2 separate regions of the Homo sapiens genome follow, and region 2 is linked to region 1. A link means that fine-mapping ties the variant in region 1 to the expression of a gene that starts in the linked region. Tissue or cell type: whole blood. Region 1 holds a variant in brackets; the other region holds the start of a gene. All regions are shown on one strand. Distances are from middle to middle.

Region 1 (2,756 bases):
GCCACTGCACTCCAGCCTGGGCGATAGAGTGAGACTCAGTCTCAAAAACAAAAACAAAAACCTTTGGCTGGGTGCAGTGGCTCAGGCCTGTAATCCCAGCACTTTGGGAGGCCAAGGCAGGGGGATCACTTGAGCTCAAAAGTTTGAGACCCGGCTGGGCAACATAGTGAGACCGCTTCTCTACTTAAAAAATTTTTTAAAAAAGAAAGAAAGATATCATCAGCAGGCCGTGGTGTTACACACACATGGCCCCAGCTACTCGGGAGGCTGAGTGGGAGAATTGGCTGAGCCCAGGAGTTTGAGGCTACAGTGAGCTATAATGTTGCCACTGCACTCCAGCCTGGGTGACAGAGCAAGACCCTGTTCCCCCACCCCCTCAAAAAAACCAAAAACTTCTGAGTTCATTAATTTAAAAATGTCAACCACATGATCTCCAGGATAGAAAGTATGCTCAGAACTTGGTGTGTTTGTGTGTGTGTTAATGAGGAGCCTTCTGAATGTGAATTTGAGGCAAGGACTCTGTCCTCAGCACCTACGACAGTGACTGACACATAGGAAGCATTTAATGTTCTTTGAATTAAGTTGAATTGAATTAATACTTTTTAAGCAAAAAACGTAAATTTCCCCCTGCTGGAGAGAAGACACAGAGGTGTTCTAATATAACAGTGCATTGTCTGGAAATCAGGGGTACCTTCTTATTTACTTTCATACCCTATGGAACACAGCATCCTAACATTAGCAAGCAGAGAGTGAAGAGAAAAGTGTTTGGGAGTGAGTTTGTGTTTTGGTTTATAGTTCAGTCCGAAGGAAGCATCCAGTGGCTATGCAAGCTTCATCTTCCTGGTCCTTGTACTATTCTTTCTTTTCCCGCCTGTGACGTAAATTCAGATGAGAACTCATGCTGGCTCATCTGCAAGCTTCCTGATGCTTTGCGAGCTTTCCCATTCATTCCAAATCAGAAGCAGTCAGTGGCCCCGTGGTTTCCAGACGGCTTTCTCTTTGTTAAGAAATTAGAATACCTGATTTCCCTGCGTTTTCCTTGTGGCCTGAGTGTGCACCTTGGCTTGAGGAATTCGCTGGATTTCCTTCTCTCTTCCTTTGCATTTCTTTTTGGCACTCTTAATAGCCATGTCCCTATACTATCAGTAACCTGAAAAAGATCAGGAAATTAAGTGGCAGAACATCTTCACGGGAGCTCAGTGATAAGGATCATGCCCTCCACGATGGTGAAATGAAAGTATTTGATGTCGGCCTGGTGTGTGGAATTGTGGGCCCACACATTTCTCTTCCTCTCTCAGATCCTGGTGTATAGCCTGGAAGCAGGACGCCGCCTCTTGAAGCTGGGTAACGTTCTCCGTGACTTCA[CGT/C]GTGTCAACCTCAGCGACAGCCCTCCCAACCTCATGGTCAGTGGCAACATGGACGGGAGGTACGTGAGTTGGAAGGGCATTGCCTTGCAGCCCCATGGCTTCTGCCAAGGCCCGGCCCCCACTGCGCTGCTCACACTGCCCGGTTCTCACTCAACAGCTCTGCCCACCTGAGTTCAGCCCCGATCCCATAAACACTCTAGACTCAGAGAACAAAGTCCTGTATTAGGTAATAGTTGGATGTAGCTATGTCTCTGCTTCATTTCTGAAGCACCACGGGAAGGTTTTCTTTTAAGCCATTTGGTGGCCGCAGTTGGTAGAAGGTCCAGGGAGACCACTTGGAATATCTTTTGTCCCCTGCTGCAAAATTTGTTTGGCACTTGAAAGCTCACTTTCTAATATTAAAAACAGTAACCTAAGGGATGAATCATGTTCAGCAAAATAGGGTTTCCTGCCAAACGATGTCAAGAGTGTATTTCAGAACACGGTGGTGTCCCTCTGGTGATGGAAGGAAAGAGAGACTTCATGTGAACAGATTCCACTTTCTATTTAGCTGATTAGCAGCCTTCTCTTTAATGCACTGGCTTAGGGAGTCGGATTTTCCCGGTATAGGGGCCTGTGCCAGCCCCGGGCGCCCCAGGAACCATCAGCACAAAAGGATTAAAGTGTTTGAAAAGACCCTTTGAGTCCAAATTTTAGGTTTCTCCCCGCCTCTTCTTTCCTTGTTTTTTTCTTTTCCTTTTTTTTTTTTTTTGGCCAGTTATCTGCTGTGTCTGATCCAGTGCCCTGAAGAGAGGTAGCATGGCTGAGGGCCAGGGGCTGCTGGCGCCCCCTCCCCTGGGCCCGGCCCCGGGCTGCAGGTGGCGGGCTGCTCGGAGGCGGGTGTCAGATCGTGAGGCGGGTACTCCTCTGTGCCAGATCCCAGGCCTCTGTCCCGCCAGTGCAGCAGCTTGCAAAAATAGTTATTCTGTCAAATAATATTTTCACCTCCCAACCTTCACCCCTAGATACCCACCCCCAACTTAGAGCAAGGAAATGATGTGAGTATGCTTTATTGGGAAGAAAAATAAGGCCTCCTAAAATGGCTGATGTTCCGGTGCTTGAGAACTGAACTCCTCAGTGTGTGTGTGGGGCACGCACTGGGCTAGTTCTCTTTAGAAACTAGGCTTGATAAGTGGCCCCACATGTGGCACGGCAAAAGAATCAAGTCAGTTTGTAGTTTTAATCCCGCATTTTAGTTTTCAGGTTGAGCTATACAGAGGCTCCAAGCTCCTCTCCTAGGATCTCCACACAGGGACCTGGCAGCTGCTTGGTTTTGAGGAGAGGCGATGTGGAGAGCTCTTTGGGATGGTGGATGGTGCTCAGAGTTTGCTTGCAGTGTGAACATTTATA
Region 2 (2,500 bases), 100 kb before region 1:
AACAAAACAAACCAAACAAACAAACAAACAAAAAACCATTTATTGAGCATGTATTAATCACCAGTCTCAAAGCTAAGAGTTGCCAATCTAGAAGGGAAGGGATATATATATATACATAAAAATAAAATTACAAATTGTGTTATGTATTATGATGAGAAGTACAGGATGCTGTGAGAATGAGTAACAGGGATACCTGATGTTTCTTGAGTGGAGGTTGGAAGATTAAGTGAAATGTGAGTTGAGATATGAAAGATGTGTAGGAGTTAACCAAGTCAAGGTGGGGGGAAAAGTTCCCTGCTGAGGGAATATCAGGTGCAAAGAAAACATTTTTAAGTGGAACGCCATCGTATGTCATTTTCTTTCCCATCTTAAAGCCCTTGGATTTCCTTCTGGAAATCTCTCTCCTAAGATCTGACCTTCCCTTGGCTGGTTTCTCTTTCAGATTTTTAAAAAAAAATTTTTATTTCCACAGGTTATTGGGAACAGGTGGTATTTGGTTACATGAGTAAGTTCTTTAGTGGTGATTTGTGAGATTTTGGTGCACGCATCACCCGAGCAGTATACACTGAACCCAAGTTATAGTCTTTTATCCCTCCCCACCTTCCCACCCTCCCCTCGTCCCCCTCCCCTGTTCCAAAGTCCCATAAGTCATTCTTATGCTTTTGCATCCTCGTAGCTTAGCTCCCACTTATATGTGAGAACATACGATGTTTGGTTTTCCATTCCTGAGTTACTTCACTTAGAATAATAGTCTCCAATCCCATCCAGGTTGCTACGAATGCCATGAATTCATTCCTTTTTTATGGCTGAGTAGTATTCCACCATATGTATATATCAGTTTCTTTATCCACCTGTTGATTCTCTTTTAGATTTTAATTTAAATAACATCTTAAACAGACTTTCACTATCAATCCTTACTCCCCTTACCTTACCTTATTTTGTTTTCTTCCTAATACCTATCACTGATTTAAATGTTCATATTTCTTTGTTTAAAGTCTCCCTACTTAAACGCATGCTCCAAGACGTCAGAGTTTTTGTTTTGTTTTACAGATTTAAATGCTGAATTCTTGGTGCCTGGCATATAGTAGTTGCTGAATGAATGTTTGTTGAATGAAGGAACAATGCTTGGCGCAAAGTCAGAGCTTAGCAAAAGTGATAGGCAGCAGAGCTGACGGGCTGAGGGGCAGCTGCGTAAACCTCTGCTTTGGGCGCCACAAGCCACAAGCCGGACCACCACGTGCGTACAGGGGCAGCGCCGGGGGCGTGGCGGGGGCGTGGACGCCCACCCGGAACCCTAGAGCGGCGGCGGCAGCGGCTTCCGGCCGCGGCGGACACTTCCCTGGGCGGGACTGTCTCGTGGCACCCGGTGGAACCGAGGAGAACGTGGAGCGCCGGGAGCGGCGAATATGGACGACTACAGCCTGGATGAGTTCCGTCGGCGCTGGCAGGAGGAGCTGGCGCAGGCCCAGGCGCCGAAGAAGCGGCGACGGCCCGAGGCTGCCGAGAGGCGGGCTCGGCGGCCGGAGGTGGGCTCCGGGCGCGGCGAACAGGCCTCGGGGGACCCGGCGCTGGCCCAGCGTCTCCTGGAGGGCGCGGGGAGGCCCCCGGCGGCGCGGGCGACTCGGGCCGAGGGGCAGGACGTAGCGAGCCGCTCACGTTCTCCTCTGGCCCGCGAGGGCGCCGGGGGCGGGGAGCAGCTGGTGGACCAGCTCATCCGCGACCTGGTGAGTGGCCGTCGCCTCCCCCCCGCCCATGCCTGCGCCGGCCCCCGCCCCCAGGACAAACCCCTGCAGTGATTTGGAGAGTAACTGTGTGCCACTAGTTGCCCGAGAAAATGAGTAGACGCACAAACACCAATGTTTGTGCTTGCATAGGGGTCTTTCTGGAAGCAGCACTTCCCAACCAGGGCGATTTTGTTCCCCCAGATGTGGCAGTGTCTGCAGACATTTTTGGGTGCCTCATCGGGGTGTGTATGTGTGCATGTTACTGGGCATCTAGTGGGTAGAGGCCAGAGATGCTCCTGAACATCCTACAGTGTACAGGACACCACGCACAAAAAAATTATCCAGGACAAAATATCAGTAAGTGTGGGGTTGAGAAATCCTGCTCTTGAAGGCTACCTAAACTTTGAACAAAGGTTGCCTTTGAAAAGGAGGACCCAGATGATGGATAGGAAGTAATTTTACCTTTGTATACTGTTTGCACTATTTAATTTTTGTAACCGTGCACGTATTCAAAAAAATTATCTCAGAAAAAAAGGAAGAAGAGGAGGAAGAATCTCCTGGGCACTTTCATTAGGATAGAGTTTCTTATCTTTTTGTGGGGCGTGGATACCTTGGAGAATCTGGAGGAAGCTGGGGACCCTGTGTCCGTTAAAAATAATCCCCTTCAGAAAGTTGGGAAAATCAAGAACACCTGAAATGCATCCGTGGCTCCCAGGTTAAGAGGACAAGGCTCCAGGTTCTAATGGTTTGATTTAAATTAGGCCCAAAGGAAGTCC

What was found. PIP is the estimated chance that this variant, and not a neighbour inherited with it, causes the effect.
Region 2: FBXW8 starts here. The variant in region 1 is fine-mapped to the expression of FBXW8 in whole blood (TOPMed, PIP above 0.99).

What each region holds. Positions count from the first base shown.
Region 1 is chr12:117,009,025-117,011,780 of GRCh38, forward strand. It overlaps FBXW8 (F-box and WD repeat domain containing 8), which reads left to right. Exons shown (of 11, transcript NM_153348.3): 8 at 1,299-1,426. Among named protein-coding and RNA genes, the nearest start is that of TESC, 89 kb to the right of the region's middle. RefSeq lists an enhancer at 693-1,444. The variant CGT/C (reference allele first, on the strand shown) is at 1,366.
Region 2 is chr12:116,909,632-116,912,131 of GRCh38, forward strand. It overlaps FBXW8 (F-box and WD repeat domain containing 8), which reads left to right and starts at 1,319. Exons shown (of 11, transcript NM_153348.3): 1 at 1,319-1,724. The coding sequence starts at 1,407. RefSeq lists silencers at 1,147-1,366, 1,527-1,786.